Linked DNA regions of Homo sapiens: regions 2 and 3 are each linked to region 1. Evidence: fine-mapped expression QTL. A gene starts in region 1. Each other region holds a variant in brackets. All regions are shown on one strand. Distances are from middle to middle.

The links. PIP is the estimated chance that this variant, and not a neighbour inherited with it, causes the effect.
Region 2: its variant is the best candidate, but not a certain one, in a credible set for the expression of ZNF608 in adrenal gland (GTEx, PIP 0.64).
Region 3: its variant is the best candidate, but not a certain one, in a credible set for the expression of ZNF608 in spinal cord (GTEx, PIP 0.78).

What each region holds. Positions count from the first base shown.
Region 1 is chr5:124,744,822-124,749,068 of GRCh38, reverse strand. It overlaps ZNF608 (zinc finger protein 608), which reads left to right and starts at 2,430. Exons shown (of 10, transcript NM_020747.3): 1 at 2,430-2,874; 2 at 3,897-4,247. The coding sequence starts at 4,080. RefSeq lists a silencer at 73-312 and enhancers at 192-1,190, 1,318-1,497, 1,191-2,189, 4,229-4,247, 4,138-4,247.
Region 2 is chr5:124,867,211-124,871,457 of GRCh38, reverse strand. LOC105379157 (a long non-coding RNA gene) reads left to right here. Exons shown (of 2, transcript NR_188329.1): 2 at 1,548-2,673. Among named protein-coding and RNA genes, the nearest start is that of ZNF608, 120 kb to the right of the region's middle. The variant C/G (reference allele first, on the strand shown) is at 1,766.
Region 3 is chr5:124,635,735-124,639,981 of GRCh38, reverse strand. It overlaps ZNF608 (zinc finger protein 608), which reads left to right. Exons shown (of 10, transcript NM_020747.3): 9 at 768-849; 10 at 2,076-3,067. The coding sequence ends at 2,082. Among named protein-coding and RNA genes, the nearest start is that of ZNF608, 110 kb to the left of the region's middle. The variant A/G (reference allele first, on the strand shown) is at 1,974.

The DNA of each region.
Region 1 (4,247 bases):
GGGAGGTTCCTCAACCCCAATCTGGTTGGAAAATAAAACGCTTTGTCTCCACAACCACCCCCCACAGCACCCCCACCCGCTCTCAGTGTGTGTTTTATACGTGTGTATATCTCAACCCCCTACAGTAGCCAAGAGAAAGCAGCTAGCCAATGAGAGAGCCCAGTTTCATAAAAGCTGCTCTCTGATTGGCCCGATGCGAAAGGGCACTGGGAACAAAGAAAAGTCCCTTTCAGGTATAGAGGCTGAGAGCTTCTTTTGCTCCACTCCCCCTGTGTGTGTGTTGTGTTTCAGTCCTGATTTAGTGTTGCAGAACAAGCTTGTTGTGTGTGTGCACCAGGGGGATTTTTGTTTTGCTTTTTTTAAATTTTAATTTTTGCTTTTATAAAAAATACACAGGACGGTCTGTGACATTTGATGGTCCATCTTCTTTAATAATAAATTTGTTGAAGAGATTATAATTTCCAAAATAAAGCGGCTGCAACCAAACACATTCAATGCAGTTAGAAGGAAAAGGTCAACTCGATCCAATACAGACCGTAAGTACGGTTGCGTGGTGTGTCTCTATATAGCACTTAGCGGGGACTTCATGCAGGGGAATGTGCGAGTTTTATGCATAGAAATGAGGAACTAGTTACAGGGTTTGGCTTTTGCATTTAGAACAACAACCCAAGAAGGGTGAATTTTATTCAGTGGAGGGTGAAGCATTTGTAACTTCACACAAATTAAGCTTGACTGGGCACTCGGGGTAACTTAGAGGAAATTAGCTTTTGGGCTCTAACCCAAAGGAGAATAAAAGTGACACAGTTGCATATCCTGGTCTGCAGTGTCAATTCTCTAGCTCACCTTACTCCCTCCCTCTTCTGTCCTAGCTGGGCAGACCCCCCTCCCAAAGCGATCCAGGAAAATGGGGGCAAGGGCAGAACAAGCCGATTTCTGTCTCCTGTCAGATCCCAGTGCCCGATAATTTAATATTAAACAAGGGAATAGTCACTCATTACATGTAATGGTTATAATTACCATTCGCCATCTCCTTAAAAAAGCAAGCAACAAAAATACCATTAAGAGAAAAAATAAAAGCCCCACCCAACCCAAACAAACCCACAAATAGTAACAATGGTGTATTTATTACAGGACCAGGCTGGGGAGCAAGCAAAAGGTTTTTCTTTGTTTAATACATGAAGTGGGGGTCCCTAAAATCCAAGTAGCTCGGAGATACCCTTCTCCCTCCCCCAGGCGTCCCCGTCCCTGGCCCCTTGGGAAAGCCGACAAATTGGAGATAAGTTGAGGAAAGGTTTATAAAGTGTTTCTTTAAAACATCTGCTTTGCTCTTGTGCTCATTACATTTCGCTCCTTCCGAACTTCGGAGATCCTAGATCTCCGAGAAATGTTTCACATTCATAACTTGTAGCTTCGCCCACTGCGGGGGGGCGGGGGGAGGAGGTTGGGGGAGTGTGTGCAGGGGGAGGGGAGAGACTTTCAGCTTTTTTTTTTTTAAAGACCAGATCAGTATTTTCTTGATACGCTTGTCACCATTTTTGTTCTCACGACAACCAATTGAGCCCTTGATCCTCACGTGATGTGAAAGGCTTGCACTGTAACAAAATCGCTCCTTTTAGATGGTTGGTTGTTACTAACTCGCCCATCCCCCTCTCCCAGCCCCGACATTTCCAGCAAAGCGACTCTCCACTTCCAATCCATCAACAATTCATTACTGCTTTTAGCTTCCAAACGCCAGCTAATTAAAAATACTAAGCCAAGCTCCGGGGCCATCTGACTAAACACAGGAGGGGCTGGGCGAAGGGAGAGGAGAGAAAAAATAAATAAAAGGGAGACACACCGTTTGCTGCGAGTATAAGAGGGAAAAACTCCCGAAAAGGGTCGCCTTAAAAAAAAAAAAAAAGAAAACAAAAACCTTATTTTGACTCTAATTATCGAATTACCACATGACTGGCTGACCTGAGCGACAGAGGATTCCACTCCCCTCGGGAGCTATACTAGGAACTCAGTTCCTTTTTCTTAAAACAACATAAGACAGGAAAACATCACATCCTTTAGGTTTCGAAGACTGAGCCCATTTTAAACGCCGTTATTTTCCCCACCCCACCGCCCCAAGCCCCCCGCCCCCCGCCCCGAGCGAATGCTGTTATAACTGGTTTATCAGCTCACTGAATCATCTGCTGTCTCCTCCTCCACACCTTTCTTTTTCTCCTCTTGCCCAGTTTCTCATCCCACCCTTTCTTCTCCTCCTCCTCCCTCTACTCCCCCCCTCCTTTTCTCTTAAGTTAGTTCAAGAAATCAAATCTGTCAGGACGGGCGGAAAAATGCCACTTCCCGACTAACAGGCGGAATCCAGCCCAGATTTTCAGTCCTTTCTTCTTATTCTTTCTTCCCTTTCACTAATTTATCCCGATGTTAGCACATTCTGTCTCGTTACTAGCGGACGCCTGTAGGTTTGCTACATGGGATCATTACTGATCACGGTGACTCTGAAGTCTGGAACTGAAGGCGGAATGAGAAGTTGGGAAAACTTTTTTCTCTAAACTCTCTGTTTTTTAAAAAACTATTATTCTCGATGCTTGTTAAGAGGAAAAAAAAACCTTTGGTGCTTCTGTTGTGAATGTGAAACATTATTTTCCAGCTGTACAGTGACACATTTTTTTTAAGGAGAAAAGGACTGATTCGTTTGCCAAAAGGGGGGTGGGGAGGTGGAATAATGTTATCGAGTGATTATTCTGGCTGAGATGTGTTATTTGGTTTCTTCCTTCTTGATCATTTGGTGTTTAAGTAAAATGAGGCACAGGCTTGTTTGCCGAGTGGAGTGGGAAAGGCATTTTGATTTGCTGGCCTAATTAAAAAATGATAAAGGATTAAAAGGTAAGCAATGTCTGTGTGTGTGTATGTGTGTGTGTATGTATATTTATTTATTTTTTTCTTGACAATCAACTGTTAAAAAGGGGCTGATCCCTTTAAAAACCGTTTTAACTGCTCTTTGTCAAACACACTCATTTGCGGTCATTGAGGCCACCTTGGCGCAGATCACTTAAAGTGTATGTCTTAATCAGTTTTCTGTACAGTCAGTAGCACCGTATTTAAGAGAGTGAGCAATTCTCTGACCTAGGAATATGGTAGAATTGTTTAAATGTATTTTTTTCTCAAAAGGCAGGTATTTAACTTTTTATATAACACTGTCTTTTCTAGAGAGAAATGCTCTTAAAAGACATGCATATTTCAAAAAAGAAATTGTAGAAGCTGTTTGGGAAAAGAGGATAGGAGGGAGGTATGTGTGTGTGTTGGGGGCAGTTATTGGTTGTTTTTTCTGTTCCTTACTAGGAACAAAAAACAGATTGCCCAGACAATTTGTAAAAAGAAGTACTGAAACCTAAATTAGAAATAAGGAAAATTTAGCAACATTCTATTCTGAAAACTAGCCTCAGAACTTCCAGGGTCTGGTCTTCTAAATTGCAAGATCTAGGACATGTTTAGGGATGTTTAAAGCTGTGTTCTTCCTTCTTGTCTGAGTGTTCAGGCTGTGTTTCTGGGGTTGAGATATCACATGTGCCAGACTGAAATCCTAAACTTTAAAAAAGAACACAAAAACCTTTCTGGACTTGAATCAGATCCTTAAGATAATTTAATGCTTTTAAAAAGGTGATTATCCTTGTGTTGTTGATAAAGGGATTTTCTTTTTAGCTACCGTAAGATGCTTACTGTCATAGGTTTATTTTTCGGGTTTGGTTATTTTCCTTTAAACCTGATATTGGACTGTGAGGACAATACATGAGCCACCTTACTCTCCATCCTTCCCTGTCCCCTTTACTGATTCCCCAATACTAATCGTTTTTTATTCTGGTAACACCCAGACAAGAAATATTCGACTTTTCCCCCCCCCTTCACAGGAAAAGGTGGACCTGGACTGAGGGTGTAAAATCCCTGGACACATTCGTGGGGCAGGAAAAAGAAGAGGAAGATTAGAAGATTTTTTTTTTCTTTGAGAGAAAGCCCAGCGGAGATAAACGAATGTCCCCTCATCTCCAAAGAAAAGTTCATCGGATTTTTATTCTAGAGAGCTCATCTTCAGGATGTCAGTGAACATTTCTACTGCAGGAAAAGGTGTGGATCCAAATACAGTTGATACTTATGACAGTGGCGATGATTGGGAAATCGGGGTTGGAAATTTAATAATTGATTTGGACGCTGATTTGGAGAAGGACAGACAGAAATTTGAGATGAATAATTCCACCACCACC
Region 2 (4,247 bases), 120 kb before region 1:
CACTATGAAAATAAAAAATGCCTTTCCCCCCTTCTCCTTTCTCCTGTTTTTTTTTTTTTTTTTTTTTTTTCTCAGGTTAGCTTTTACTTCTTTGTGAATATTTACTGTGTAAGCAGGAAAGGGTTCATTTCCGTCCATTACCCCTCCTTGGGAATCTGAATTCTGCATCATCTCTGGTACTTGGCAGCCTGCGTACATAGGCCAAGAGTGAGCATCCTACAAACAAGAAAATAAATAAACCTGATACACCTAGAATAGGGTCCGAACATTACTGCTCAAACCCCATTTCACCTAAGTCCTGTTTAATGGACCAGTGTATTTGGTGTTGGGTATGTGGCTGCTATTAGAAATTTGTTACTTTTCATAAGTACCAAAGGTTGCAGGGGAATCAATTAATAAAAATGTAAATGAGATGGCATTCAAGAATTTCCCTCTAATCCATCACACTCATTCAATGCAGTAGTGTTACAATATGTTTTGCTGGTTGAAAGAGAAAGGAGCCCAGTTATTGTTCAAACGCCAGGAAGTACAAGTAACTTGTACCTAACTTACCTCTGCTCCTGTAAGCACATGCTCTAGATCTCAGCATCCTTTGCCTTGTGCAGCTAACAAGAGAAAGTCAGTTGGGTACAGCTGGTTAATACATACTAAGGCTATTTTCACAGAATCATTTATTCATTCTCCCTCAGCCTTTAACTCTATGAATAGAAACCAGTTTTAGGCTAAGCTCCTATTAGAGGCAGAGTCAAGAGATACAGTATTGGCCAAATCCAATATTTTCTATTGGGATAAATTGGGGATGTATGTAATCTGTTCTTCTTTCATTTTAACTTACATCTTAAGAATATTATATCACTTTGACCCAGTACACTGGACAATGCCTCCCTCTTCACCACAGGGAAGGAAAAAAGATGCATCCTTCTATATGAAATTGGGATTTTTTTTATATCCTGGGAGAGGCCTTAGTAAGTGATTAACCCTGTTATTTAATTATGACAGAGGAGCTGAGGTTCTCAAACTTTAGCAAGCATCAGAATCACCTGGAGGGTTTGTTAAAACACAGATTGCTGAGTCCTGTCCCAGTTTCTGAGTCAGTAGATCTAGAACAGGGCTGAGAATGTGCATTTCTAAAAAGTTTCCAGATGGTTCTGATGCTGCCTTTTCCACACTTTGAGAACCACGGAAATAGTGTGTTTTTCCAGCACCAAAGCCAAGGATTAACTGGGTTATAGCTAACAACCCTAAATAGCACACTCACTAAGTCACCTAAGGGCATACTTTATATTCTGCTTTTCCCGGTTTACTAAAGAGACAGCACCACACTGGATGATTTACAAAGATCATTTTTAATGGCATGGGTCATGGACTGGTAAAACTGCTTAAAAATGTTCCCAACTAAATTATTGTGAGCATGTTCTATTTGGGGCTTTAATTAATCATTCATTCCTATTTTTCTTCCTGAAAAACAAAAATAATAATATAATAACTTCCATTTGTTAATTTCTTCCTACAATGCTACTGGCTCTGTGTTGCCTGGTTCCCATCAGTTTACCTCATTCAACCTTCACTGCAATCAAGGAGGAAGCTTTATCATCCCTATCTGACAGAACTGAGGACATGGCTGAAGGAGATTAAAAGCACATTTGGAAATACCGCTTTAGATACTCTACAAGTTAACCTTGGAATAAACCAGACTATCAGAGGGCATTGTCACTCACTGACGGATTTCTTTCATTCCTCTCTGCTTTGGCATTAGGCAGTCAGC[C/G]ACATCAAGAGACTTCATAAGAAACAGCCCTGTAACTCATTTGTTGCTTTCCTGTAAGAATGTTGTCAAGGACATTATTTACTTCATTACAAAGGGTCTTCTTTGTGCTGGAGAAACTTCTCTCAGATCTCTGTGCCAGGAAGAATGGTGTTTCTCTCAAACACTGGGTTTGATATTACAGATAGTATAAACTATATATCCAGGCACATCCTCCTTTAGTGAGTATATACAAACTGGCTTCACTTCATTTTTTTCATCTTCCAACTTCTCCATAATAATATTTACTTTTAAAAATGTTCTTAACAATGAATATGACCAAGACAATTTGAGGAAACCAATCATAAACTTTGTGTCAATATAGTAAGCATGTTTCCTGCAGGGAGATACCACTGTTCCCACTAAAATAGAACACAACAAAAGGAGGCAGGAGAGAAATGAATGACTTAGGACCTGTCTAGGTTGAAAAGGCAAACTAGAAGTGGGGCACACCTAACTTGTTTAAAAAGACTTTGTCAACTATTATTTGTGTACTCTTGGCATTTCTGTGTTCTCCTCATTCCTATTTCATTCCTATTCCCCTTTAATATTTCCTTTACATACCTGATACCTTCCCTCCCAAAAATGGTGTGTGTCTATGTAGTTCCTTGATGATTTTGTCAACGAATAATAAACCCTGGGTTTTGGATAAGGAGGTGAAAAGAAAGGGCTCTGCTTGATTCTGCACAGGGCTATACACCACAGGGCGAGGAAAAAAGGAAAATCCAAATATGTTTAGTCAGGATGTTTTCCTAAACTATTGAAGAAATCTTATCTGGCCTCCTCTTAAAATATGTAAGAACTGTTTCCAGCTGCTTGTTATTTGGCTGTGCTTATTTTAGACCAAAGCCAATAAAAAAAATGAGACTCTTCCCACAGTTTACTTATTAATTATACAGGAGAAAATAGTAGCTTAACAGGAGAACTCTGGTGGACACCCTTTTACCCAACTTAGCAATACTACCAGTGGGATGAACAGGCACCATGTGTCTGCTTGTGTGACAGTGTGACAAAACACAATACCACTTACCTTTCATTCCTGAGGGGAGAGAAAAGTGCATCCTGAATCTAATTATAGGGAAACATGGGATAAACCCAAACTGAGGGACATTCTACAAAATAAATGGCCTGTATTCTTCAAAACAATATCATGAAAGACAAAAAAAGGTAAGAAAACATTCCAGATTAAAGGAGATTAAAGAGTCATAAAAACTAAACCTAACACAAGATCCCAGATTGGGCTCTGAACCAGGGAGAAAAATGCTATAAAGAATATTATTGGAGTAGTAGCTCGTGCCTGTAGTCCCAGATACTCATGGGGGAGGCTAAGGAGGGAGGATAGCTTGATCCCAGGAGTTCAAGGCTGCAATGAGCTATGAGTAGAACACTGCACTCCAGCCTAGGCATCACAGCTAAACCCTGCCACATATCCCCCAACCAAGGAAAAGATATTTTTGAAGCCTCTGGCAAAATTAGAATAAAGATCTGTAGATTTGATAAGGGATTGTATTAATATTTCACATTTTGATAATTATAACATTGTTATGTGAGCAAATATTCATGTTTTTAGGAAATACACACTGAACTATTTAGGGGTAAAGAAGAACTGTGCCTACAGCTTACCCTCAAATGATTCAGAAAAATAGAATCACATAATCATTTTATGTAGATGGTAGAGATAAATATAGACATAGGTGCATTTACCCCATGTTCACGATGCAGCACGTTCATCACACAGCACGATGGGATAGATGGATGGATTCACAGATGGATGGATAGTTAAAGAGATGAAAGTAAATGAGGCAAAAGGTTAAAAACTGCGAATCCAGGTGAAGAGTATACAGTAGTTCTTTGTACTATTATTGCAATTTTCTCTGTTTGAAATTATCACAAAATGTTTGAGGTTTGTTTTGGAAAAAATAATAGCCACAGAGTATTTTTTTTCCCTAAGTAATAGTGCATGAAGTGTTGTTTGTGATGTGGCAAAGCAAATAGCTGCAAAATAAAGTTATTCACATAACAAGTATGGTCATCTTAAAAGCATGATGCCTAGTGAAAACCACTTCCTTTCATGCACAGACTTGGCTAAATCTTTTTAAAAATTTTTTGAAGCACTGGGGTTGATTATTCACACCACAGAATTCTCACGTGGTAGCAATGTTATGCACGCCATCTTTAAAACATGCTTGGCTCTCAAAAAGCCCTTCCCCCTACCCTCTAAAAAGCACTGGAACACACCAAAGCCTAGGAGGTACCAGCTGGAGTCATATATTCTGTTTTCTCTGACAAGGGTAGTGCCATTATAATCCAACAGGCCCATGTGAATGTGCGGCAAACATTCGCTTCGATTTTTATTGTGGAGCATGACAGAAAAGAACATTTGTTCCTTTTCATTCCTGAATGTTTTCATGGTGACATTTCTCAATCTGTGGGTTTGGGTGTGTGT
Region 3 (4,247 bases), 110 kb after region 1:
TCTATATATAAATAAAGTATATATGAGAAGAAAACAATTGTCTCTTTTAAGATAATATTATTGTTATTGTACTGTCTTAAGTTACCTCTGGGAAAAGAAAATATATCCAAATAAAAGACCTAGAAGGAGACAGTAATCTTCCCTAGGTTTGCATTTGTTTACTCTATTTTTCCCCAGGACTGTCTTCTATAGAATTTAAAAGAATTCTCTGTTAGGCAACATCATGCCATTTGGAGCTATTACAGTCTCTGACTGCTACCTTTGTCTTGCAGGGTGAAAGTTAAGAGCATTTCTAAGTTTGATTTACTGATTCTGTGTATCTTATGGGATGCATTGTGTTCAGTCACTGGGGAAAATGTTAAAGTGATAACAATTATTATGAAAGTATTGTATTCTAGGCAAATAGCATGCCGCTTCTGTAATTCACTGTGACTTTTGATTCCTGTTGTTACCTGGTATCTGTTATTTCTCCTGAGCTTCCTATTCAGGGAATGCATGCAAACCATTTAGCACCATGCAGAGCCGGAGAGATGGAATGCTGTATCTCCTTCGAATAGCTATTAAGAAAACTGCAGAGTATTCAAGAAAGGATAGATAGCAGATAGACCAAATGGTTTGTACTGTGTCCTTGCTGCATGAAACAGTTCATGTGTGTGTTTAGGAGAGGACACCATGCTGCTACTAGGTCTGCGGCCCTTCTCCACTGGGCCTGTATCTACTCTTATCCTTCTAAAGATCACAGACACTCTACATTTTTTCCCCATTAGGCTTGACCTCTGCTGCCCTTGTTGCCTCTCAGCAGGTGGCTGCCCAGGCATCTGCATCTGGAATGTTTCCTGGACAAAGAAGGTAAATATCCTCTACATTTTTAATTAGTTGTAGATAGAAATATCTTAATGGTTGGGAGGAAGCAAGTACAGGATTTTTAGACCAAAAACTTAACTCCTTGGGTTTTATATCATTGTAATGAATGTGTTTATTATGCCAATATAAGTTGCTTCACATGCAACTTAAATTCCATGAACCTCATTCTGTAAGGGTTACATAGATTAGTAATTAACTGATTAGTTTTTTAGACAGTTGAAATTTTCTTGGGTTATCCTTACGGCATTTCTAAAATAATTCACCATGACTCCCTTTGTTTTATTATGTTTAAAGATAAAGTCGCAAATGGAGACATTTATTTTCATAATGCTAAAGGTAATGTTTGTTCTTTGATATTTTAAATTATTCCCTAAGTTTTATGAAGGAAAATGATTTAAAGGAATTAAATTATTAATATTATAAAATTAATATTTTTCACAATGTATATCATTACTTTATGTTTATTCACTTTCTCTGGAATTGAATTCCACATTTGAATGGAATTAAAATAAGACTATCGGTCTTATGGTTTTCTGGTTTACAGTGCCAAATGTTGATAGAGGCTGGGCATGATGGCCCATGCCTGTAGTCCCACCACTTTGGGAGGCTCATGCAGGTGGATCACCTGAGGTCGGGAGTTCCAGACTAGCCTGGCCAACATGGTGAAACCCCATCTCTAATAAAAATACAAAAATTAGCTGGGCGTGGTGGTGTGCGTCTGTAATTCCAGCTACTAGGGAGGCTGAGGCATGAGAATTGCTGGAACCCAGGAGGTGGAGGTTGCAGTAAGCTGAGATTGCACCATTGCATTCCAGCCTAGGTGATGGAGTGAGACTCTGTCTCAAAACTAAAAAAAAAAAAAACTGTTGGCCGGGTGTGGTGGCTTATGCCTGTAATCCCAGCACTTTGGGAGGCCGAGGTGGGCAGATCACCTGAGGTCAGGAGCTTGAGACCAGTCTGACCAACATGGAGAAACCCCCTCTCTACTAAAAACATAAAATTAGCCAGGCATGGTGGCACATGCCTATAATCCCAGCTACTCGGGAGGCTGAGGCAGGAGAATCACTTGAACCCAGGAGGCAGAGGTTGCGGTGAGCCGAGATTGAGCC[A/G]TGGCACTCTAGCCTGGGCAACAAGAGCAAAACTCCGACTCAAAAAACAAACAAACAAAATGTTGATAGAACCGTGTGCTAAGGTTTGCTTTTCTTTTGCAGAGAATAACAAGATTGGACATGTACATTGTCATGTGACTGGATCACATGGGGAAGCGCTTTATACAGACATCAGTTCCATGGTGTTAATTTGAAATGCCTTAATGGCAGGCAAAAACCAGTCATTTCATTTTTGTAAATTACAGATTTTATCACAGAGTAACAAATGTTGCTGTAATTAAACTTCTGTTTTATATATATATACGTATACATATCTGTATATATACATATATATATATATAAATATAAATATATTCTTTACTTTTTGTATCAGTAACCAGGCTCGCACACACAGGGTCTGCTGCCACGTCGCAAACCACTCAGTAAAGGAAATTAAAAATGTATTTGTCATGTTAAAAAGTGTTAGCCACAAAAGGCTACTTACTTTCTTTTCCTTTTCCTTTAAAATTGTAAATAAATAATGTTATGTATCAGTGTGCCTGAACCTTGCATATCCTTCACATATTTCCCATAAGCCCCTCAGAAAGGCTAACTGTGATGATGACACTTTGGTACAATTTAGATGTCTATTTGGTGGCTCCTGTTAAAGACGCACCAGTGTAAAATGTTCCTGTAGTCACTGTTTGTACTTGTGTATTGTGGAAAAAGTACTTTTGGAAGGCATGGGGTTGCCAGTACCACAAAAACTGTGTTGTATATAATGTAAAGATTAAAATGGGGAAATAATGAGCATCTGTGAATAATGAGGTGTCATTTTTTGATAATCTTGAATGGCAAATAACCCAATAGCCTGCGTACCAGAGACATCTGTGATTGTTCTATTACTTGAATAGTTCTACAGTCTTTTTTTTTTTTTAATGTTTACAATTATCCAGTTTTAGAAGAGAGAGACTTTAACGCCATTGCCTGGTTACTTGTTTTATGCTGTAATCTAGTTTATTTTATGTAAAATGTATATTGAATGCTTTCCTTTTTTATACCTGCCTTAAATAATTTGGCAATCAGAATTAAAAAGTTTTTTTTTTTTTAAATAATGGCTTCTTGTCTGTCTCATGTTATTTTCTACCTGGCTGATAGTCATTCTAATTTTCAAAGAAGGGTTTCTTAATATTATTAATATCCAATGCATAAGATACAGTAAACAGATATTAACTTTTCTTATAGGATACATAGGTATAACAACCAAATAGTGTGTTTAATTCGGTGAATGTATTCCCATTTACAGGGTATTTACCCTAAACATGGAGCACGATATCACTAGAAATTAGTAGATACAGGTTTCTATGGTATGGAATGATACTTCAAAGATGCAAATGTTATGACATGTGGATAACAGGAAAAATATGTAAAAAGTCATTTAGTCAGTTAGCTGTCATTACATTGATTTACTAGAATATTTTATGCCAAATTTTAACTGCCTCTTCTCTCCCTTCTTTGCTTGGAACAAACACTTACTGAGTGCCTGCTTTATCCCAAGCACTGCACTGGGTTCTGGCATATTGCAGTAAACAAAGCAGACACAAATTCCTGTCTTCATGGAGCTTTCATTTTTTGGTGGGTGGGATAAACATATCATAAAATATCTGAATAATATATAGAGCATGTTAGATGGTTGATAAATGCAATGAAGAGAAATGAAGCATGGGAGTGGGGCATAGTGAATATGTGCTGGAGTTTGTAACTGTAAACAGAGTGGCCACTAAAGAGATGGGGGGGATCCATGCAGACATCTGGGGGAACACCACTGCAGTGACATGGAAGAGCAAGTACCGAAGCCCCAAGGTGGGAGTGTGCTTTGTATGTTTGGACTGGTTGATTTCAGTGCTCCATTCCAGCTGTAAGTTTTTATTATTTTACTATAATTGCTAATGACAGTGCTACCACGTGGTTTACTAAAAAGTTCTTTAAGCTGACGGAATTTGTCTTGGTATAATTTGGTTAGTTCTACCTAGAGGCCTTTGCATCAGAAATGAATAGAATTTTGCAATCAAAAAGAAATGTTTCCCTTGATTTTGAAAGACCACCTTAGAGTATTGCCTTTGCTGCTTGGCTTACACATCTAGTCTATGTTCTTAATAGATTTCAGTAAGAAGATATTTTTCTGTTAGTTTTCAGTTTTTCTTTTGAATTTCATCCAAGCTGTTATTTATAAAAATATCGTTTGTGGTGTTTAATCCTATACATAAGAGTATTTCACATATTTTTCATCATTTT